Homo sapiens: one gene and its partners. The protein of the gene in region 5 purifies or fractionates together with the protein of the main gene of each other region. This does not show direct contact. Each region holds a gene or a part of one and is shown on either strand. Other genes may lie near its edges. The genes, in order: GOSR1, CILK1, SCFD1, STX2, SLC35A1, ACBD3 and TMEM106B.

What was found.
Region 1: the proteins of SLC35A1 (region 5) and GOSR1 purify together in Homo sapiens (affinity purification with mass spectrometry; one large-scale study listed by BioGRID and IntAct). This does not show direct contact.
Region 2: the proteins of SLC35A1 (region 5) and CILK1 purify together in Homo sapiens (affinity purification with mass spectrometry; 2 studies listed by BioGRID and IntAct, with this or other methods). This does not show direct contact.
Region 3: the proteins of SLC35A1 (region 5) and SCFD1 purify together in Homo sapiens (affinity purification with mass spectrometry; one large-scale study listed by BioGRID and IntAct). This does not show direct contact.
Region 4: the proteins of SLC35A1 (region 5) and STX2 purify together in Homo sapiens (affinity purification with mass spectrometry; one large-scale study listed by BioGRID and IntAct). This does not show direct contact.
Region 6: the proteins of SLC35A1 (region 5) and ACBD3 purify together in Homo sapiens (affinity purification with mass spectrometry; 2 studies listed by BioGRID and IntAct, with this or other methods). This does not show direct contact.
Region 7: the proteins of SLC35A1 (region 5) and TMEM106B purify together in Homo sapiens (affinity purification with mass spectrometry; one large-scale study listed by BioGRID and IntAct). This does not show direct contact.

What each region holds. Positions count from the first base shown.
Region 1 is NC_000017.11:30,483,908-30,487,407, forward strand, and holds part of GOSR1 (Golgi SNAP receptor complex member 1), read left to right. Parts: intron 1-306; coding exon 307-394; intron 395-755; coding exon 756-863; intron 864-3,500. UniProt on the Homo sapiens protein: Involved in transport from the ER to the Golgi apparatus as well as in intra-Golgi transport. It belongs to a super-family of proteins called t-SNAREs or soluble NSF (N-ethylmaleimide-sensitive factor) attachment protein receptor.
Region 2 is NC_000006.12:53,020,325-53,023,824, reverse strand, and holds part of CILK1 (serine/threonine-protein kinase ICK), read left to right. Parts: intron 1-3,500.
Region 3 is NC_000014.9:30,632,319-30,635,818, reverse strand, and holds part of SCFD1 (sec1 family domain-containing protein 1), read right to left. Parts: intron 1,873-3,500; coding exon 1,782-1,872; intron 1-1,781. UniProt on the Homo sapiens protein: Plays a role in SNARE-pin assembly and Golgi-to-ER retrograde transport via its interaction with COG4. Involved in vesicular transport between the endoplasmic reticulum and the Golgi.
Region 4 is NC_000012.12:130,794,251-130,797,750, reverse strand, and holds part of STX2 (syntaxin-2), read left to right. Parts: intron 1-1,630; coding exon 1,631-1,711; 3' UTR 1,712-1,756; intron 1,757-3,500.
Region 5 is NC_000006.12:87,479,474-87,482,973, reverse strand, and holds part of SLC35A1 (CMP-sialic acid transporter), read right to left. Parts: intron 1-3,500. UniProt on the Homo sapiens protein: Transports CMP-sialic acid from the cytosol into the Golgi apparatus, functioning as an antiporter that exchanges CMP-sialic acid for CMP. Binds both CMP-sialic acid and free CMP, but has higher affinity for free CMP.
Region 6 is NC_000001.11:226,146,461-226,148,741, reverse strand, and holds part of ACBD3 (Golgi resident protein GCP60), read left to right. Parts: intron 1-673; exon of another isoform or gene 674-739; intron 740-1,920; coding exon 1,921-2,132; 3' UTR 2,133-2,281. UniProt on the Homo sapiens protein: Involved in the maintenance of Golgi structure by interacting with giantin, affecting protein transport between the endoplasmic reticulum and Golgi. Involved in hormone-induced steroid biosynthesis in testicular Leydig cells.
Region 7 is NC_000007.14:12,238,794-12,242,293, forward strand, and holds part of TMEM106B (transmembrane protein 106B), read left to right. Parts: 3' UTR 1-3,500. UniProt on the Homo sapiens protein: In neurons, involved in the transport of late endosomes/lysosomes. May be involved in dendrite morphogenesis and maintenance by regulating lysosomal trafficking.

The DNA of each region.
Region 1 (3,500 bases), on a different chromosome or scaffold from region 5:
CTGTATATATTGGATTTAAAGCCAGTTCCTGAGTATTCGTTAGCTAGTTATCCAATCTGTGGATCATTTAAACCTCAATCTTATTTCCTCTTGGTAAGAGTCAAGGAAAGAAGAGAGAATGTAATGTTGAGGTTGAAGGAACCATAATTCCTTTGGGGTAAAAATGTAAAAGATCGTTTCTCACAGACCCTATATAACATAATCCATAATTCATTTTATGGCTCCTATTAATCACCTTATTATTTTAAGTATGTTTTAAAGGACTGATTTGAGTAATGGATCCTCTTTAACTGAACTTCTTTTTAGTTCTGATACAACACCCCTTTTAAATGGATCAAGCCAAGACAGAATGTTTGAGACAATGGCGATTGAGATTGAACAACTTTTGGCAAGGGTAAGTGCTTTCTGTTAAATGGCTATTTTGCAAATAACTGTATACTTGTTACGTAGGATCCTGGATTATATTGAGACAGACATGTTTATTGAAATTATCCATTCCATTCAATATGTGTACCTCCCCACACCACTTGAATTTTGATGACAGCCATTCTCAGGTGATATGATGTTATTTTGGTCTTTATGGATTATGTGGGGGAATGCTGAATTCTTACTTGCTCTCTTGTTTGTTTTTTGTTTTGTTTTGTTTTGTTTTGTTTTGCTGTCAACCAAAAGGGCATATAGGCAAATAATTTGCTTTTAGCTGTTTATAGTGCTTAGTAAAATATTTTGATTGTTTTTTTTTTCTTTATTTCTAGCTTACAGGGGTAAATGATAAAATGGCAGAATATACCAACAGTGCAGGTGTCCCCTCCTTGAATGCAGCCCTGATGCATACATTACAGCGGCATAGAGACATATTGCAGGTAATATATTGGGCTCGAGATGTTTTCATTATCACAGGAGTTTGGGTTTTTTTTTTTTTAATCCCTGCATTGGATATGTGCACATATATTTAAAAGGACAAAGAGAAAAATCTGAGAAAATAAATGCCATGCTAAAGGGACTTGTTTTACTTTTTTTTGGGGTCACCATTATAAAATTCTGAAAATATCTAATAGCTCTTGCTATTTCTTGGCGAAGTTGAGTAATATTCATCACTGGGTACATATACTTCCACTATGGGAGACCTAGCTAGCTAGCTGTAACAGTGAAATAGCCAATGGTCATGTATAGACAATAACGTGGTGGGTAAGCGTGTACTTTCAGCTAGCTTTGAAGATAATATGGAGGGGGAATTATTTACTATACTTAGTATATTGTTTAAGAAAACAGTAAATGTGTATGCACCAATAAAACTAAATAAACTTTTAAAGATTTAAATGGAGGATATGTTAAAAATATGGTAGTACAAATAGGAAGGCAATTTTTTTTTTTTTTTTGAGATAGGGTTTCTCTGTCACTCAGGCTGGAGTGCAGTAGTACAGTCACAGCTCACTGCAGCCTCAACCTCCCAAGCTCAAACAAGCCTCCTACCTCAGCGTCCTGAGCATCTGGGACCACAAGCACATGCCACCACGCCTGGCTAATTTTTTAAAAGCTTTTGCAGAGACAGGTCCTTGCCATGTTTCCCAGGCTGGTCTCTAACTCCTGTGTTCACGAGGTTTTGCTATATTGCCCAGGCTGGTCTCTTAACTCCTGTGTTCACAGGTTTTTGCTATGTTGCCCAGGCTGTTCTCTTAACTCCTGTGTATGGGCAATCCACCCCCTCAGCCTTCCAAAGTGCTAGAATTATAGGCATGAGCCGCTGTACCCAGCCACAAATATTTTTAATATTGAGAAAAGTCAGCAACTATTTCTAATTTTAAAAACTGTTTTTAAAAGTAGGAATAGATGGCCGGGCGCAGTGGCTCGTGCCTGTAATCCCAGCACTTTGGGAGGCCAAGGCAGGTGGATCACCTGAGGTCAGGAGTTGGAGACCAGCCTGGCCAACATGGCGAAACCCTGTCTCTACTAAAAGTATAAAAATAAGCTGGGCATAGTGGTGGGCGCCTGTAATCCCAGCTACTTGTGAGGCTGAGGCAGGAGAAGCTTGAACCCAGGAGGCGGAGGTTGCAGTGAGCTGAGATTGCACCACTGCACTCCAGCCTAGGCTACAAGACTGAGACTCCATCTAAAAAAAAAAAAAAAAAAAAAGTAGGAATAGAAAGATACTTTAATACAAAAATGTATTATCGGGTTAAAAGCTAGCATTGTGTTTAAAGAGAAAGCAATAAAAACATTCCCATTGTATGAAACAAGACAAGGATACCCATGATCGCTACAAATGTATAACGTTGTTTTTTAAGTTCTTGATGGTGCAATTAGACAGTAAAAAGAAATGAAATGTATGCTGGGCATGGTGGCTCACACCTCTTATCCAAGCACTTTGGAGGTCTGAGGTGGGCGGATCATTTGAGGTCAGGAGTTGGAGACCAGCCTGGCCAGCAGGGTGAAACCCCTTCTCTACTAAAAATACAAAAATTAGCGGGGCGTGGTGGTGGGTGCCTGTTATCCCAGCTACTTGGGAGGCTGAGGCAGGAGAATAGCTTGAACATTGAACCTGGGAGGTGGAGGTTGCAGTGAGCCGAGATTGCACCACTGCACTCCAGCCTGGGCAACAGAGTGACTGTTTCAAAAAAAAAAAAAAAGATGTAAATATTGGAAAGGAAGAGGCAAAATTTCTGTGAGGTAGCAGGATAAAATTATATGTCTAGTACACGCAAGAAAATTACCTGATAAAAAGTTAGAAACAATTAAATTCAGTAAGATGGTAGATCACAAAATGAATACATAAAAGCAAATAGTTTTCCTATTATGATAGGAAATAAATGATAACCTGTTAGAAAATACAATGGAAGAAACTATAAAGCATTTATATATGAATTAAATAAGAAATGTGTAGGACTTGTATGTGCAGAATTCTACTGAGGGACATAGAACAAGATTTAAGTAAAGGAAAGAATCATTCTGTTTTTGGATAGGAAGACTTTCGTCTAAATTGCATGACATCCCAGTGGAAACAGCAGGGTTGTATCGTTGTTTGTTTAATTAAAAACAAATGACATAATGACACCAAAGTTCATTTGGAATCATAGACATACAAGAACAACCAAGAAAAACAACCTGAAAATGAAGATAAGTGGTAGAGGGTTCCTAGTTCTACCAGATCTTAAAACCTGTTAAAAAGCTGGAATAGTTAAGACAGTTTGATACTAGAGAAAAAAAATAAATAAATAAAAACAATTAAACAGAGTTTATATGTAGACCCAATTATGTTTGGAAATTTTTAGTTTCTGATAAAGATGTTGTTTAAAATCAGTGGGGCAAAGAGAAATTATAAAATAAATGGAACTATAACCATTGCTTAATTATTCAGAGATTTTAAAAAAACAATTCTATCTCAATCCTCACATCCAGAACAAATTCCAAATGGATCCAAGAAGGATAGAAAAAGAAACCATAAAGCAGAGGTGAAATTTGTAAACTTTGGAGCAGAAAGGACTTTCTAAATAAGACTTGAT
Region 2 (3,500 bases), about 34 Mb from region 5:
TAATACTATCCATTTGGAACTTGACCCAGTATTAAGTACTGTTGTCTTTAGAATGATGAACAGAGAGGATTGTCCTATTACTAAAATATTGTTCCTTTCCATGATAATGGCAATTAGTGTATTTTCACATATAACCACATCACAATCACCCTCCCTTTGCTCTAGGGCAGTGACAGTCTTTGGAAAACAACCTTGACTAATAGATTTAGTCCTACTAGAGTTCCTGCCTTCATTCATTCATTCAACTAATACAACTCCCTCTGTCACAAGGACAACCAGCTCTGAGCCCTCATTGTCCCCTGCACTACTGGGTCATTGTTCTCTCTCAGTTCTCAGTGCTGTCTCATGGGTTTCCTCCCTCCCATCCTCCTCACAGCTCTGGTTTGCTCTCTAGTTGACCCTGGTGCTTGGCTCAGGTAGATGTGTTAACATTAAGCTGTTTAATGTTCCCTACAGACGAAAGTCCTTTGTTCAATCAGCAAGAGTATATTATGAGACCACAGTGCTCCTGCCACTGTGCCAGGCATTCATAAGAAATATAAATGTGGCCTCTGCCCTTAAAGTGCTTCTGTCTAATTCATAAAAAATGGTTAGCCAGGTGCGGTGGCTTACACCTGTAATCCCAGCACTTTGGGAGGCTGAGGTGGGTGGATCATGAGGTCAGGGGATCGAGACCACCCTGGCTAATATGGTGAAACCCCGCCTCTACTAAAAATACAAAAAATTAGCAGGGTGTGGTGGCAGGCGCCTGTAGTCCTAGCTACTCAGGAGGCTGAGGCAGGAGAATGGCGTGAACCCAGGAGGCAGAGCTGGCAGTGAGCTGAGATTGTGCCACTGCACTCTAGCCTGGGCAACAGAGCAAGACTCCGTCTCAAAAAAAAAAAAAATGGTTAACATACCTGAAGTTGATAGAGCTCAACTGGAGTTAGAGGGGAGGGCCTATTATGTCCATGAGGGCAAGAGTCATGTCCATTGCATTGTTTCTGAATCCTTAGAACCTAATCTGTTGCCTGGCATGGAGCAGATGCTCAGTGAAAATGTGTTGGTAGAATGAATGAATGAATGAATGAAGGCTACCATGTTAGAATGGCATAATGGAAGAAGCGAAACTCAAAACAGGTGTTGGAGGATGGCAAAAGTTGGGATTGATGTAGACAAAAAGGAGTAAAGGGCACATTATTAATGGAAATAAGTACAGTTACATATCACTTGATGACTGGATATGTTCTGAGAAATGTGTTGTTAGACAATTTTGTTGTTGTGCAAACATCATAGAGTACACTTACTTAGACACACCTAGATGGTATAGCCTATTACATAGCTGGACTATATGGTATAGCCTGTTGTTCCTAGACTGTAAGCCTCTACAGCATGTTACTGTACTGAATACTATAGGCAATTGTAACACAATGGTAAGTATTTGTGTATCTAAACATAGAAAAGGTACAGTAAAAATATAGTATAAAAAATTTTTTTAAAAATGGTACACCTGTATAGGGCACTTACTGTGAATGGAGCTTGCAGGAAATGGCTCTGGGTGAATCAGTGAGTGAGTATGAAGGTCTAGGACACTTTATAAACACTGTACACCAAGGATACACTAAATTTTTAAAATTTCTTTCTTCAATAATTAATCTTAGCTTGCTGAAACTTTTTATTTCATAAACTTATACTTTTTTTAACTTTTTGACTCTTTTATAATAACATTTGGCTTAACACATATGGCTATACAAAAATATTTTCTTTATATCCCTATTCTATAAGCTTTTACTGTTCTTAAATTATTATTATTACTTTTTTAACTTTTTTGCTAAAAACTAAGACACAAATACACACATTAGCCTAGGCCTACACAGGGTTAGGATCATGAGTATCATTGCCTTCCACCTCCACATCTTGTCCCACTGGAAGGTTTTGAGGTGCAATAATACGCAGGGAGCTGTCATCTCCCATGATAACAAAGCCTTCTAGGTACCTCCTGAAGGACCTGCCTCAGGCTGTTTTACAGTTAACTTTTTTTTTTTTTTTAGTAAGTAGAAGGAGTACAATTCTAAAATAATGATTAAAAGTATAGTATAGTGAATACTAGATAAGGATTTTTCAGCTTCATTATAATAAGACCACCATCATATATGCAGTCCATCATTAATTGAAACTTCGTTATGCAGTGCATGACTGTACAGTGAACTTACAAAGAATGAGGAGTTGCACCTGATTGGAGCACACTTTACATGTATTGATAAGTGTTGGAAAATAAGTTTCTCTCTTTAGGTAGAGTGAAAGGAGTTCAGCCCTGTTTAATATAAAAAGGAGTCATGGATGGTTTTTGTGGGTGAATGAGAGAGTGACAAGGGAAAGATAGTGTTTAAGTGGTCAGGATTATAGGAGAGAAGCTGGAGCAAGGAAGGTCTGCAAGAAAGTGGCAATGCAGGCATAGGCAGTGAGAAAGTAGAAAGAGACAGATATGAGATTTACCCCCCCAACCCCCCCGCGCCGCTCCAAAACGAAGTCTTGCTTTGTTGCCTGGGCTGGAGTGCAGTGGTGTGATCTCAGCTCACTGCAACCTCCACCTCGCAGGTTCAAGCAATTCTCCCACCTCAGCCTCCCGAGTAGCTGGAATTACAGGCATGTGCCACCACGCCCGGCTAATTTTTAAAATATTTTTAGTAGAGATGGTGTTTCACCATATTGGCCAGGCTGGTCTCGAACTCCTGACCTTCAAGTGATCCGCCCGCCTCGGCCTCCCAAAGTGTTGGGATTACAGGCGTGAGCCACCGCGCCTAGCTGATATGAGATGTTTTGATAGAAAATACGACACAATCTCATAACTGGGTAAGGATGGATCCAACATAACTGCAAGGTACCTAGAAATCTTATCCAAAGGTTAGGAAGGGGAGATGATTTGGGAGAGGACAAAAGTGGTTTTGGATAAGTTAACATAGGGATGATAGTGACATCCAGTTGCTGTCCAAATAGAGATTTATGTCTTCAGAAGGGTAGAGAAGGCACATTAGAAATGTAGACTTGAGCGTTGTCAACATACAGGTTGTCAAGGAATCGTGTAGATCTTCAGTGATGGCTATTAATTTCTCCCATAATGTGCTAGTTAGAATCCAGCTTTCACAACATTGATACAGATTGAGTATCTCTTACTTGAAATGCTTGGGTCCAGCAGTGTTTCTGAATTTGGATTTTTTCAGATTTTGGAATATTTACATTATATTTTACCAGTTGAACATCCCTAACCCAAAAATCCGAAATCCAAAATGCTGCAGTAAGCAATTTCTTTATGTGTCAGGTTGGTGCTCAAAAAGTTTCAGGTTTTGGAGCATCTCAGATTTTGAATTTTCAGAGTAGGGAATACTCAGCCTGTAATGATAGCAATGATAATGTGTAACAAATAATAGCATCAGCAGCAGCTGAGTTGTATTTCCAGTATTGGTGTCCCATTGAGATTTGGAGCCACATTAAATGATGTCTAGGTTGGTGATACTCTCAGG
Region 3 (3,500 bases), on a different chromosome or scaffold from region 5:
AAGGTAAACATAGAGTTATCATTTGACCATGCAATTTTATTCCTATGTGTTTACGGCCACAAGAGAATTGAAAACATGTCCACAGAGAAACCTGCACATGAATATTTATGGCAACATTATTAATAGCCAAAAGGTAGAAACAATCCAAATGTCCATCAAGTGGTAAAAGGATGAATAAAATTTCGTACATCCATACAATGGAATATATTCAGCCACGAAAAGGAATAAGGTACCAATTCATGCTACAATATGGATGAACCTTGGAAACATTATGCTAAGAGAAATCAGCCATATACAAAAGACCACATATTATAGGATTTCATTCATATGTAATGGTCAGAGTAGGCAAATATACAGAAACAGAAGGTAGCTTAGGGATGGAAGAGGATGGGGGAGGGTTGAGGATGTGATAAATGGTACCAGGTTTCTTTTTGAGGTAATGACAATGTTCTAAAATTGACTGTGGTGATGGTTGCAAAACTCTGTGACTATATTAAAAACCAATGAACCATACACTTGTGCTCCTTAAATGTGTGAATTGTATGGTATGTAAATTATAATTTCAATAAAGGTGTTATTTAAATAATGAAAGAAGAAGAGATTGCAAGTGGTACCTCTTTCATGAATAGCATACTTGAGTTTACGCAGGGTAAAAGAGAAAGCTGGGCATCATAAAGCTACACAGGACACAAAATTTGCAAACGTCACTAACAATTTAAATAGCAATTTGATTCAACAGTCAATAACAAAGATGTTGTGACTTGTGGAAGACACTGTTACTTACCTATCCAATATCTACTTTTCTCCTTTTCCTTGCTAAAAGAATCTTGCTAGATTTTCTTTGGGGTGACTCATCTAAATATTGACTTTTGCAGCCACCCTTGTAACTGATTCTACCTAGTGAGAAATAAATAAAGGTCTTCTGGGAGTTTCTGGAAAGGCTTAAATTCCTGATCAAAATCAACAGTCAGGGCTGGCACAGTCCATGTCCCTCTTCTTGTTGATGTGAACATAGATTTGATGCCTACAGGCGCAGCGACAAGCAAGACAAGGAAAACCAACAAACTAAAGACGAATGATCAGCGACAGAAGGAGCCTGGGTCTTTGATTACCTTATAGTACTTCTGCACCAGTGTGGACTTCCTAATCTCACCCTTATTTTAGAAAAGGAAAACCCTATATAAGTTAGAAAGGCAATATACCTAGGCTTTCTGTTTGTTAAAGCCAGACTCAGACTTTACCAGTACAGTGGTTGCCCTTATTTGCAGGGGTTATTTTCCAAGACTCCAGTGGATGCCTGAAACCAGGTAGTACTGAACCGTATATGTTTTTTCCTATACATACATATTTATGATAAAACTTAATTTATAATTTATAAATTGGGCACGGTAAATGATTAGCAACAATAGCTAGAAATAAAATAGAGCAATTATAAAATATATTCTGTAATGAAATATATTACAGAAAATATATTCTGTAATGAAAGTTATATGAATGTGGTCTCTCAAAATACTGTAATATATTCAGTACCTGGTTAACTGTGGATAACTGAAACTGTGGAAAGTGAAACTGTGGACATGAGAGGACTACTGTATAATACTTCTTCAGCCAAAAGTTTTAAGTCTTTCAGGCTATTTGGAATTCAAAGATAGTCTCAAAAATCAGAGTGAGAAAGTAGGCATAGGAATTTCTGATTTTTCACCCTGGACATCTAGGAATTTTTCTTGAAAAAAAAATCCATTTCCAAATTCAGGAGTCCAGAAAATAAGAACCCATATTACCTGGCACATTCTGTCAATATTTTCTTCAGTTGGCATTACAAAGTATACTGCAGGAACATCTGGAATAGGATCTCGATCAGAGTGTAAAAGCCTAGAAGACATAAGGAACTAAAACTTATTTTTTTATTCACTTATTTAAAACAATATTCCTCAAAATGGGAGTTCACTAGCTCAAGGACAGTAACCAGTGCTCTAAAAGCTCTTGTTGCAATTAATCAGTGAGTTAACCTATCTTTCTCCCATGTCAGTGTTGTTATTATTTATTAGCATTAGTAAGACCCTAATTTCTTGTTAGTCTTCATTTGTTCTATTCTGCTCACACTTTTAGCACTGCTTATGGTCAGACATTCTTTTCTACCAACACTCTCCTTGAATGAGAACTAAAACATATTCAGAATCAATCTTATTCCCACTTTTCATAGAAATGTGGTGGTCAGAGGGGAAGGGTGAATGTGAGGAAAGTGTGGCTCTCTGAGGGGAAAATCAGAAAGCTAGGGGACGCAATGAAAAAAATTTTAGAAGCAATTCTTTAGAAGCTATAAAAAAATTTAACCAAACATGAAATCAAATATATTTTTTAAATGAAAGGTATATAAATGTTTCCTTAAAAATTAAAGACAATCTATTTTTGTCTATTTATTGTTTCATAAGAGAATGTAAGCATCTTATAGATTAAGTCATTTTACAGTTTTCTCCTTTTACAATTTAGGAACAATTTCCATACAAATATCCCAACATCAAACCATGCTTATATGAGGAATATTCACCTCTCTCTAGTCATCCTTCTATAATCAAGGAGAGAGAGGAAAGAGGCACATGCTGCCAGTGAGTCTGTGTTTAATAACTGTTGCCACTGATATCAAGAATGATAATGTGATGGCTGCCATAGGTTGTGGTCTTTTTCACACTGCTTGTCCAACTGTCTAATGGGCTACAACCACCATTTCATACTGTGGAAACTTGTAATTACTGTTTCCTACAAATTAGCCTAAACCAGCTTGCAGGGTATAAAGTAACTGATACAGTATTCTCCAGCAAATAGAGGAGAATGGTTGGAGGCAAAGTACACAAGAGTTCACCATGGTAGCTGTGTAATATTTCCATGCTCTGGTGGCAAGTAGCAAGTTAGGCAGAGATTACGAGACTCTCAAACTGGTAGACTATCCTATTACCCCTGAATGAAGTACTGAGTAAGGCCTCACTTCTGTTAGTTACTGTTACTGAGCCATTACAGTTCAGTAGATAAACAGCACAGAATTAGTGGTCAAGCAATGTGGCCATGGCTCTGTTATTAACTGGTTGTACAAATGTGAGACAATCACTTAAGCCTTCTAAACTTCAGTCCTTCCATTAGTAAATAAAGGAGTTAAACACTTAGTACAGAGACAATGGCACTCAATGTTTATTAATAAACCACAATTTCCAAGGATAGCATGAAGTTAAACTTTACTTCAGTCCATAAAAATTAACACATTATCAAAGCAAACCTGCTTATTTCAGTCTGACATAAAAATGAAAGGAAAACTCATCAAATACCGTATTTCATGAAACCCAAGGTGGTAACAATTTTAAAACATAATTTTTAAAATATATTTTATATACTACTGAGAAATAAAAATGCTGCCAGTTATGACATATCATCAGTGATAAGATAGATCCTAATTTCAGAAATGTAAAAAAGGACATTTGGAATTGACAAACTATAACAGTCTATTAACA
Region 4 (3,500 bases), on a different chromosome or scaffold from region 5:
ATTTTTTTGTTACGGGGCAAAAATTTAAAACTTACTCTCCTAACTTAGGCATTTTATGATAGTGCCCCTGACACTGGAGAGATTATGGGTTTTTCACATTGTCACCTCCTTGTGCTAATACACAGAGATGCTGATTTTCACCGTGTTAGGAAAAAATGGAGTGAGACGGTGTGTGTGGATGCACCTCCAGGCGATGGCCCTGAGACGCACCCCCGGGCTGCAGGCTCAGCCGCCAGGGCACACCCTCACTCACACCCCCGGGCTGCAGGCTCAGCCGCCAGGGCACACCCTCCGCTTTTCCTGGGTATGTCTAAGTATGCTCGTCATCTCTGAAATGCCAGACATGGTTTCTCATGTTATTTCATTTATTGCTTTGAAAAAATTGGCCCCTAATGTAAACTGAGGTGAAGAGATACCTGTATAAAGTGCTTAACTTAGTTCCAGGCCTAAGTCAGCTTTCATTAAAAACAGGCAGTCCTGTTCCTTTTCTCCATGACCTGAACACGTCAGTCTGGTGAAAACGATAGTGAAAGTTCGTTGGTTTTACAAAGGGGGAAGGTGGTGGGTGTGATACGTTTTCATTCTCCTCTGTGGATGAGCAAGCCTGGCTCTGTGAGGTGCTTGGGGTCTGTGCGGTAGCTGGCGTATAAACTCGTCAGAGACGTGATGCCTGTTTCAGAAATGACACTGTCTTTTTGATGAGATGCCTGCTAATGGAACCCTCCTGGCTTGTCTCCCTGTCCCCTTGCCGCTCAAATGCTTTGCTGCTGCCCCTGGCTCAGGTGTGGGTCGTCCCCACTCCTAGTGTCCTGCATTTATTCCCGCGGAGCCATGTGGCCCTCAGAGGGAGGCCAGGCAACGTTTGTAGAAGGGTTTTTTTTTTCTGTGTGCTATGTCAGGAGCAGTGAAGAAGTAACTGCCAAGAACATAAAAGAAGGAGCGAAAGGCCAAGTACTGAGTGTGTCGGGGCTTCATGACGAGGCAGTGGGGCTCTCCGTCACTGAGCTAGCAGGCCCGCACCTCTGTACATGCGGAAAACTAACTGCATGTCTCAGTCATCAGAAATGTGGCAAAATGACTTGGTCGTGCTGTCCCCATGGATGAAACCTGAAATAACAGTTACATAGCAGCTTATCGCCAAGTAGTCTGACCTTATTAAGTCACTCTCTCAAGAAGTCGCCCAACAGTATTAAGCAGTGTCCTGTAACTTAGCTTCTAAAGTGAGTTCTGATGGGTTGTTTTGCTTTATTTTATTTTATTTTTTTGAGATGGAGTCTTGCTCTGTTGCCCAGGCTGGAGTGCAGTGACACGATCCTGGCTCTCTGCAACCTCTGCCTCCTGGGTTCAAGTGATTCTCCTGCCACAGCCTCCTGAGTAGCTGGGATTGCAGACCCACGCCCGGCTGGTTTTTGTATTTTTAGTAGAGACAGGGTTTCGCCATGTTGGCCAGGCTGGTCTCAAACTCCTGACCTCAGGTGATCCATCCGCCTCGGACTCCCAAAGTGCTGAGATTACAGGCGTGAGCCACCACACCTGGCCAGGTCGTTTTATTTTAAATGAAGGATGTCTTTTAATGTGGCAATATGAAATTAACCATGCATGATATAATCAGCTTGCTTTTCTTTGACAGAAAAAGTGGATAATTATTGCTGTGTCAGTGGTTCTGGTTGCCATAATCGCTCTAATTATTGGCTTGTCAGTTGGCAAATGATGGTGTGGATAACGTCAGTGTGCATGCCTCTCTGCCAGGGTGGGAGTAAGTAACTCATCAACTAATTTACTTATTAACTTTTGCAATTAACCAATAATAGTATTTGCTTAATTGTAATAGACATAAAACTAATAAAAGCTTGCCAGCCACGCAGTACAGATAATGCCATCTAGTGATACATCTGCCTGTGTGCTGATTCGAGTGCCCAGCCACTGTGTTTACTGAGAACAAGCACAGGCTGGGCGGTAACTCATTTTTAAACCAAGGTCACCTTCTTATCCCGTTTTTAAAAGTGTTTTTGAGACAGGGTCTAGCTGTGTCACCCAGGCTGGAATGCAGTGGCGTGATCATGGCTCACTGCAGCCTCGACCTCCTGGGCTAAAACTGTCCTCCTACCTCAGCCTCCCGAGTAGCTGGGACTACAGACGTGCACCAGCACACTCGGCTAATTTTTAAAAAAATTATTTTTAGTAGAGACGAGAACTCTCTGTATTGCCCAGGCTGGTCTCGAATTCCTGGCCCTCAGCCTCCCAAAGTGCTGGGATTATACATAGACATGAGCCACTGTACTCAGCCTGAATCTTTTGTTTTTGATCTAAGACCATTAGCTCTTTACATGTAGTGGATCCTTCATTAAATGTCATAGAAATTCAGTGAAGATTAATTCTCAGTTGTAATGTTTTGTCTCCTGAGTTTTAGCTTTTAGAGTAATTGCAACACTGAAAGGTACTTTATAAAATACACTAACGCATCATTTTACTATGGAATCGAGGGCATGGATGAACGCTGAGAAAAACATTGACTGAAAGGAACATCCTTCGACCTTTCTATAGGCAGCATCTATTTTATTTAAAAATATTTCCTTTAATATTAAAAGGAAAATTACGTATTATATTTAGTTAGCATGCCTGTTAATTCTTAAAGAATTCTGAATATAAAAGGTATCAGTTTATTTAAAGAATCAAGGTGTGAGTGTCACCTTTCCTAAACTTCAGCAGGCTTTGTGGTTTCCCCCTGGTTTTCTTCTGCATTGGGAGCCATCCTTGCACTGGCCCTGAAGTGGCAATGCTGTCGGTGTGTTACAGGTGGACACAGCAGTGATTTCTCTGTAAATGTTTGGCACAATTCTTGTATTAGACAGTTGTGAACTGTTCCCAGGTGTCTAGAGTGTGGCAAGTCATCCCCAATGAATTTATTCTTGGGTTATGGAAGTGACTGCAGACTTGATAGTCACCCAAGGCTTTTTAAAAAGTTAACATACAGCAGAAAGGAATCACGAGCATGGTTAAGTCTCACTATTGCTTTGTAATCTTTAAGATTTATTCCTTCAACATGGCAACACCCTGTCTCTACAGAAAAAAAAAAATCCAAAAACTAATTGGGCATGGTGGCACACGTGCCTATAGTCCCAGCTACGCCAGAGGCCGAGGCAGGAGGATCACCTGAGCCTGGGGAGGTCGAGGCTAGAGTGAGTCTAGATCGCACCACGGCACTCCAGCCTGGGTGACAGAGCGAGACCATCTCAAAACAAGAGATTGATATCTTAATGTGAGCATCTGTTACGCTCACCATGCAGTTACCAGATGAGAAGTTTTCCAGTTAGTCTTCTGACATTTATGCAAAAGCCACAAAATTACACCTGAAATTACTCTGTAAGGAGCTCTGGGATGCTGCGTGTGTTAACATTCCATTATTTGGCAGTCAGAACTCTCTTACCGTCTATTTTTATTAGGCAGGATGTTTGTGTAGGATGTTTATTAGGCAAGATGTTCTATTTTTTTCTTCTTAG
Region 5 (3,500 bases):
ATCCTTAACCCAGTAACCCGCAGATGACCCAAATGCATTCAATCTGTACCGGCAACTGCTTTGCTAACAGAAGAAAGTAGAAAAATAACTTTTAGAGGAAACCTCATTGTGAGCACACCTCACCCAGTTCAGAAGTATCCTAAGACAAAAAGGTAACTTACTAACTCAAAAATCTTAAAGTATGGGGCTATTCTGTTAGAAAAAGATGATTTAACATTAACCACTGATAATTCCCTTAACCCAGCAGGTTTCCTCACAGGGGATCTAAATCTTAATTAATTACCATATAAAGGTCCGACCAGACCTAGAAGGAACTCCCTTCAGGACAGGACGATAGATGGTTCCTCCCGTGTGACTGAGGGAAAAAGCCACAACGGGTATTCAGTAAGTGATAGGGAAACTCTTATAGAAGTAGAGTTAGGAAAATTGCCTAATAGTTGGTAAGCTGTTTGCACTCAGCTAAGCCTTAAAGTACTTACAGAATCAGGAAGGAGTGGTCTATACCAATTCTAAGTTAATTTAAACTAAAGAAAGTCTTATTAATAGCAAAGGATAATTGAAATACCAAACTTACAAGGTTTTCCACAAAGGTAAAGTTTGCCAAAAGTTAGCAGTGTAATATGTATTATCCTAACTTCTAATCTTGTGGCCTTAGGCAGTCTAGTCCACAGACCTGAAGGAAGTTTGCTTTGGAAAAGAATGGTTATCATCTTGGGGGAAAAAAAAGGAGGGGGGGGAGAATTTATATAAAAAGAATGTTATATGGTAAATTATTATCCTAAAATAAATTAACTGGTTATTTAAAGAAAGCGATGTTTACAGGAAGTCAGAAAATTGAGGCCTGTCGAAGATTGCGAAAGTCATGAAAAATGCTATAAAAGGGAACTTATGCAAGAAATGTTGTATAATTTAAAAGTAATTAGGCCTCCTGAATGTAAAACTATTGAAGAAACAGTTTATGTGCAAGGTGTATAATGAAAGTAAAATATACTTTTGGTAAAAGGATAATAAGGAGGCATAGAATGTGGATTTTTACCTACATTAAAAGGTTAAAAAAAATTTTGTTTTGAGCGTTTAAGCAAGTTTTAAAATGTTAATTGTAAAGGAAATTCTGTGTGTAACCATATTGGCTAAAGTTAAAGGGGTATCATCCAGTTTTTCTGTGAACTGGACATTAAAATAAAAGCACAATGGGTTTTTCTTAAAACACTAAAAAACACTAAACTGCTCTTTAACAAATTTTATAAAAGGTTAAAAAGAGTCTATGGAAATCTTACCTTATGGTCAGACATTAAAATCGGATAAATATGTCTACAGGGTTTTATTAAAATTGAGTTTAATATTAATAATACACTAATATAAAGGTGAAATTTAGCTTATCTGGTATAATCATACAGGAAGCACTGTCAAATATAAAATGGTGTTTGGCTTTCTTTGGTCTAAAAACTAATAAAAATAGGTTTCTCAGGAAGTTTCTAAAGGAAGTTTCTCAGGAAGAAGGCACTAAGGACTATAAAGTCCACTGCTGGTGTCCCCCAATTTTTTTTTTTTTTTTTGAGTCAGAGTTTCGCTCTTGTTGCCCAGGCTAGAGTGCAATGGCGCGATCTCGGCTCACCACAACCTCCGCCTCCCAGGTTCAAGCGATTCTCCTGCCTCAGCCTCCCAAGTAGCTGGGATTACAGGCATGTGCCACCAAGCCTGGCTAATTTTGTATTTTTTAGTAGAGACAAGGTTTCTCCATGTTGGCCAGGCTGGTCTTGAAACTCCTGACCTCAGGTGATCCACCCGCCTCGGCCTCCCAAAGTGCTGGGATTACAGGCATGAGCCACCGCGCCCAGCCTGGTGTCCCCAAATTTAAAACAAAAGATCAGTTTCTCATAAATTATATACTTGGTTTATCTTCCACTTTCCTTTCCCTCAAAACTACAAGTCTTTTAGCACAGGTACCACCCCTAGAATTTCTGGTAAACGGGCACTAGCCTGGGGATCACACCCTCATCAAAGGGTAGAAAGAAGGAAAACTCAAGCCAGCCTGAGAAGGACCCTACCTTGTGCTGCTAACCACCAAGACTATGGTTTGTACCACAGAAGGGGGATGGACACATCACACCCGAGTCAAGCAAGCACCATTACCATCAGAATCATGGACCATTGTTCCTGGATCAAGCCTTACCAAATTAAAGCTAAGAAAAGCTTAGTCTATCTATCTTTTCCTTCCTTTCCTAACACAGTGCCTATATCCATTACTGTTCCTACCACTAGCAACTCTAACCCCACTTTAGAGCGTTTCTATGGTTTAGGAGCAGAAGTCACTGGAAAGGACCCTATAGGCTTCTTTAAGATGCGCTTTGTTCTCCCTGCTCTACCTCCTACAACTGCCCCTTTCACAAACCTACGAAATAAAACTATGCCTCGCCTCATGCCAAATGACAAAAGCAAGGTCTCAGTAGTAGAAATAGGAGACCTAAGGCAAACCATAGCTATTGACAGGGTATAAAGATGTAAATGCCTGGTTAAAATGTATTAAATATTCCATTCACACTTTAAACAAAAGTAACTGTTACACTTGTGTGCACGGTAGGCTAGAGGCCCAGGTTGTTACCTTTCCACTGGGATGGTCCTCAAATCAAGTGGACATGGAGTGCATGGTAGCTTTTTCAAGATTCTACTGCCTGGAATAACAAATTGTGCTAAGCTCTTTCTCTGCTATTTCCTGAAGTCCAACACCCTGCAGGTCAGCCCCCAAGGGCCATCCAGCCTCCATCTTCCAAAACCAATTTTACCTCGTGTCTCTAACGACACGGGGAAAAATTTGGCATTTCTTGGAGACTTAACAGGATGCAGTGAAGTTAGGCACTTCCAAGAGGTGACCCGTCAATCTGCCCTTATTCATCCCTGAGCGGATGTATGGTGGTATTATGGAGGACCTTTACTGGACACTCTGCCAAATAATTAGAGCAGTAGTTATGCTCTAGTTCAATTGGCTATCCCTTTTACTCTGGCATTTCATCAACCAGAGGAAGGAAAAATAAGACATCATAAAGTGAGAGAAGCTCCTTATAGGTCATTCAACTCTCATGTCTATTTAGATGCAATTGGAGTCCCACGGGGAATACCAGATCAATTTAAAGCCCGAAATCAAATAGCTGCAGGATTTGAGTCAATATTTTGGTGGGTCACAATTAATAAAAACATAGATTGGATAAACTACATCTATTATAACCAACAGCAATTTATGAACTACACTAGAGATGCTGTTAAAGGAATAGCTGAGCAATTAGGGACTAACTGCCAGATGGCTTGGGAAAATAGGATAGCCTTAGACATGATATTAGCAGAAAGAGGAGGAGTTTGCATCATGATTAAAACTGAATGTTGTGCCTTCATCCCAAACAACACTGCCCCTAATGGAAGTATAACAAAGGCATTGCAAGGTCTGACTGCTCTGTCCAATGAGTTAGCCAGCAGCTCAGGGGTAAATGACCCCTTTACAGGATGGC
Region 6 (2,281 bases), on a different chromosome or scaffold from region 5:
TTTTCTTCCTTAGGTCTTGAAAGGTAGACAGAGGAGTTTGCTTTCTCTGAAGAAGCATGGATGGTAACACATCCTCCTGTTTTAATTCTCCATTTTCTTCATTGTTTACAGGTCCTAAACCTTGGCTTAAATTCATAAAAGATGCCTTTTCATCTATCCCAGTAATCTTTAGTTTTATAGATTTAAAACAAAATTTGAGTCTTGAATCAATGGACCAGTCTATTTCTTGGATGTCAACAATAGTGTACATTTTGGATGGTTCTGTATTTCTCATTTGCATGTGAAACATGCTTAATTATAGGTATTTCTGTGGTTAAGTAAATCTGGTTTTGACCTACCTTTATAAGAGTGCCATCTGCTTTTTTAAAATAAACTTTTAATTTTAGAATAGTTTTAGATTTACAGAAAAGTTACAAAGATAGCACAAAGAGTACCCATATACCCTGCACCAAGTTCCCTCTGTTGTTAGCATCTTACATTGTACTGTGGTGCACTCATCACAGCTAATGAAACAATATTGATACATTGATTCATTAATTAACTAAAGTCCATATTTATTCAGATGTTTTTAGTTTTTACCTAATGTTCCAAGATCCTTTCCAGGATGCCACATTATAGTCAGTCATCATATCTCCTTAATCTGCTATAGACGGTGAGAATTTCTCAAACTTACCTTGTTTTAAATTCCTGATAGTGGCCATTGACAAGCATCACTCAGTGTGTTGCCAGAATTCACTCTGCCATGTTATAAACCTGAAAATCCATGCCTGTAGTCCCAGTCTCTTAAACAAACAAACAAACAAAAACAACAACCATAAACCCGAAAGTCTTGTCTTCTGTGCTGAATACTCCCTTGACCTCTTTGAGCTGGTTTGTATTAAATATGTTAAACTGTGACTTCGAAGCTGGTTCATAATTTTCTCATTCCTGTAGGTTTCTAGAGGCATTTTTTTTCCTAACCTCATAGCATTACAGTTCAAAAAACTCTTAACCGGGGCAAACCTTTCAGAGCCCATTTTTTGCCACTTAGATCATCTCTGGGTTAAATTGGCCTAGTGAAAATAATTGAATTTTCAGAGTATCTCTGAATGCCTATCTCTCTACTATGATTTTTTCATTTTACTGCTTATATTTAAGATATACAGAAAGCAATAGTCCTCACAAATCATCTTCCATCTTTCTAAAATGGGGAGGACTCATATTGGTCAGAAGGAGGATGATGAGAGCAACATTTTCATGTTACTCAGATGAGTGAAATTCCTGAGGATGAATTAGGAATTGAATGGCTATGGAAAGGGGAAAATGGGACCTTGAAATAGGAATGGTAGTAAGCACAGAAAGAGATAGGATGCTGACCACTGCTACCACTAGATGTTCATCACTGGGCTCCCAGGGCTCAGAACAGGGTTTGGTGTATAGCACATACTTAGGTATTTGAATGAATGAGTGAATGAATGAATGAATGAACGAACTAATAAATGCTCACATGCACATAACTTGTTAAATGGTTCAACAGAATTCCCAACAAGAGCAGTTTCTCAAAGAAAGGATAGGCTGGGCACGGTGGCTCACGCCTGTAATCCCAGCACTTTGGGAGGCCGAGGCAGGTGGGTCACAAGGTCAGGAGATTGAGACAATCCTGGCCAACATGGTGAAAGTCCATGTCTACTAAAAATACAAAAATTACCTGGATGTAGTGGTGCACGCCTGTAATCCCAGCTACTTGGGAAGCTGAGGCAGGAGAATCGCTTGCACCCAGGAGGTGGAGGTTGCAATGAGCTGAGATCACGCCGCTGCACTCCATCCTGGGTGACAGAGCAAGACTCTGTCTCCAGAAAAAAAAGAAAGGATAGATTTTAATTGCCTGATGCAAGTGTGGTTTTCCTGAATCTGTTCATTGACTTGTCTCTGTTCTTACAGAAAACATCGGTTGTGAAGAGAAAGCCAAAAAGAATGCCAACAAGCCTTTGCTGGATGAGATTGTGCCTGTGTACCGACGGGACTGTCATGAGGAGGTGTATGCTGGCAGCCATCAATATCCAGGGAGAGGAGTCTATCTCCTCAAGTTTGACAACTCCTACTCTTTGTGGCGGTCAAAATCAGTCTACTACAGAGTCTATTATACTAGATAAAAATGTTGTTACAAAGTCTGGAGTCTAGGGTTGGGCAGAAGATGACATTTAATTTGGAAATTTCTTTTTACTTTTGTGGAGCATTAGAGTCACAGTTTACCTTATTGATATTGGTCTGATGGTTTGTGAACTCTTGCTGGGAATCAAAA
Region 7 (3,500 bases), on a different chromosome or scaffold from region 5:
AAAATATTCAGTGAACCGTGTTGTAAACAGATGTCATATTATCCAGACTGTTCCATTTATTGAACACAGGCAGAGTAGGTAAAAGTTTTAAGGGTCCTAGGATTTTCAGGATGGCAAATGAGCATTGGCTTCAACTTAAAGTCACCAGCTACATTCACCACTAAAGAGAGTCAGCCTGTCCTTTAAAGCTTTAAAGGCAAGCATTGACTTCTCTTTAGCTATGAAAGTTTTAGATGGCACCTTTTTGTAAAAGAAGGTTGTTTTATCTACATTGAAAATATATTGTTCATTGTAACCACTTTCATCAATGATCTTAGCTAGATATTCTGGGTAACTTACTGCAGGTTCTCCATCAGCACTTACTGCTTCACCTTGCACTTTTATATTATGGAAACAACTTATCTCCTTAAACATCATTAACCAACCTCTTGGTAGCTTCCAACTTTTCTTCAATAGCTTCCTCATCTCTCTCAGCCTTCATAGAATTGAAGCGTGTTAGGGCTTTGTTCAGGATTAGGCTTTCACTTAAGGCAATGTTGTGGCTGGTTTGATCTATTGAAACCACTAAAACATTCCCATATCGGCAATAAGGCTGTTTGATTTTCTTATCATTCATGTTTTCTGGAACACTTTTCAATTACTTACAGTAAGGAAATAGCACTTTTAATTTCCTTCAAGAACTTTTCCTTTGCCTTCACAACTTGTGCAAGAGACCTAGCTTTCAGCCTATCTTGACTTTCCAAGATTGTCCTTGGTGAGAAATGCTTGATTACTAGGTGTAATTATTTCTAGCTTTTGATTGAAAGTGAGAGATATGTGACTCTTCCTTTTACTTGAACAGTTAGAGGCTATTGTAGGATTATTAATTGGCCTAATTTCAATGTTATTTTGTCTCAAGGAGAGAGGGATGTGGGAACAGCTGGTTAGGAGAGCAGTCCGAACACACACTTTTTTTTATTACTTTCACTGCCTTACATGGGTATGGTTCATGCTGCCTCCAAATACTTACAAAAACATCAAAGATCACTGATTACAGATCATTAAAATAGGTTTAATAATAATGGAAACATTTGAAATATTGCAAAAATTACCAAAATGCGACAGAGACATGAAATGAGAACATGCTGTTGAAAAAAATGGCACTCATAGACTTGTTGGACACAGGATTGAAAGAAACCAATTCATCAAAACCACAATATCTGCAAAACGCAATAAGGTGATGCACAATAAAAGGAAGTATATCTGCACTTCCTTCTTTTTTACTGAAAAAGCCCAAGTTCTTACTCTGGTGTTGAGAACCTTTCATTAGCTGGCTACAATCTCAGTTCACAATCATTTCTTATTGCCCTTCAACAATGTCCTGACCAAATCGAGTTCTTTCTCATTGGGAACAGTTCATTCCTTTATCCCTTCGCTCATTCTGTTCCTTTTTTCTTAGAAAAATTATTTGCCCATGTTTTTTATCCCCCAATTCTATCTTTTTCAATGCCCACTTCGTGTCCAACCCCTCTCTACTTTCCCTCTAAACTTACTCAAACACTTGGTGAACTTTTTCTGAATGTTTTTTCTGAATGTTTACTTTTAAAGGAGTTGCCCAGTCACAAAGTTTGAGCCAAGTTTTTTTGTTTTAAACTTGTTTTAAACTTTTGTTTTCATCAACTTTTTTCAAACAATTTTTGTCAGCTTAGAGGTTGTGTTTTAATTACTATTTTTAAAATCTTGTATGAGGTAGTATGATTTGAAATTAGATGGAATGTGCCCAAAATTATCTCTGTAGAATAATATGGAAAAACGAAAATGAAAAGATGTATTACCTGAATGTGCTCCTCCTAGCCAGTTTCTCAAGGGAGAAGAATCATTAATAAGTTTGTGAGGCTTTTTTTTTTTTTCTGGTAGATTTCTGTTTCCTTGATCAGTGGTTTTTCAGAATTTTTTAAAGCTTGTGAAATACTTATTTGTAAATAGCATCTTATGAGGAACCTTGATATGTGACAAAACAGATGCTTTGATTTGAGAGCAGAAGACCTGCAGCCCCTGACTGCTCACCTTTCCAGGGACCCCTGAACATTGGCCTAGAGGGTAGTGTACAGTCACTTCTTCAGTGATAACTTACTGAGTGTGATTCAACAAAACTGCTTTGGTTTATGGGTGAAACATAATTTATAACTAGGCAAATGTCAGCTTAAATTTATATTTTCTAAATAGCACTGAAAATGACAATAGACAAATGTAATTTCTGATTTTTAAGAAATGATTTTCCATTTTAACATACATTTTAAATGTTTTGTCTTCAAAGGGAATCCTTAAAAATGATATATTGGAAACCACTGATTTCTTATTTTCATTTCATGAATTTCAGATTCATGAATGGAATATATTGATAATAGCATTTTTTAAGTTGCCCCAAAAAGATGAAATACAAATAATTTTAATCCCAAATCTATTTCAGACACCTAACTTTTTTTTTATTTTTTATACTTTAAGTTCTAGGATACATGTGCAGAACGTGCAGGTTTGTTACATAGGTATACACGTGCCATGTTGGTTTGCTGCACCCATCAACCCGTCATCTACATTAGATATTTCTACTAATGCTATCCCTCCCCTAGCCCCCTACCCCACAAAAGGCCCCAGTGTGTGATGTTCCCCTCCCTGTGTCCATCTGTTCTCATTGTTCAACTCCCACTTATGAGTGGCAACATGTGCTGTTTGGTTTTCTGTTCCTGTGTGTGTTTGCTGAGAATGATGGTTTCCAGCTTCATCCATATCCCTGAAAAGGACATGAACTCATCCTTTTTTATGGCTGCATAGTATTCCATGGTGTATATATGCCACATTTTCTTTATCCAGTCTATCATTGATGGACATTTGGGTTGGTTCCAAGTCTTTACTATTGTGAACAGTGCTGCAATAAACATATGTGTGTATGTGTCTTTACAGTAAAATGATTTATAATCTTTTGGGTATACACCCAGTAATGGGATTGCTGGGTCAAATGGTATTTCTGGTTCTAGATCCTTGAGGAATCACCACACTGTCTTCCACAATGGTTGCAATTTACACTCCCACCAACAGTGTGTAAAAGCTTCCTATTTCTCTACATTCTCTCCAGCATCTGTTGTTTCCTGACTTAATGATTGCCATTCTAACTGGCGTGAGATGGTTTCTCACTGTGGTTTTGATTTGCATTTCTGTAATGACCCGTGATGATGAGCTTTTTTTCATGTTTGTTGGCTGCATAAATGTCTTCTTTTGAGAAGTGTAAGGTACTTAATTCTTAAATTAAAAAAAAATACCCGGCCGGGCACGGTGGCTCACGCCTGTAATCCCAGCACTTTGGGAGGCCGAGGCGGGTGGATCATGAGGTCAAGAGATCGAGACCATCCTGGCTAACAAGGTGAAACCCCGTCTCTACTAAAAATACAAAAAATTAGCCGGGCGCGGTGGCGGGCGCCTGTAGTCCCAGCTACTCGGGAGGCTGAGGCAGGAGAATGGCGTGA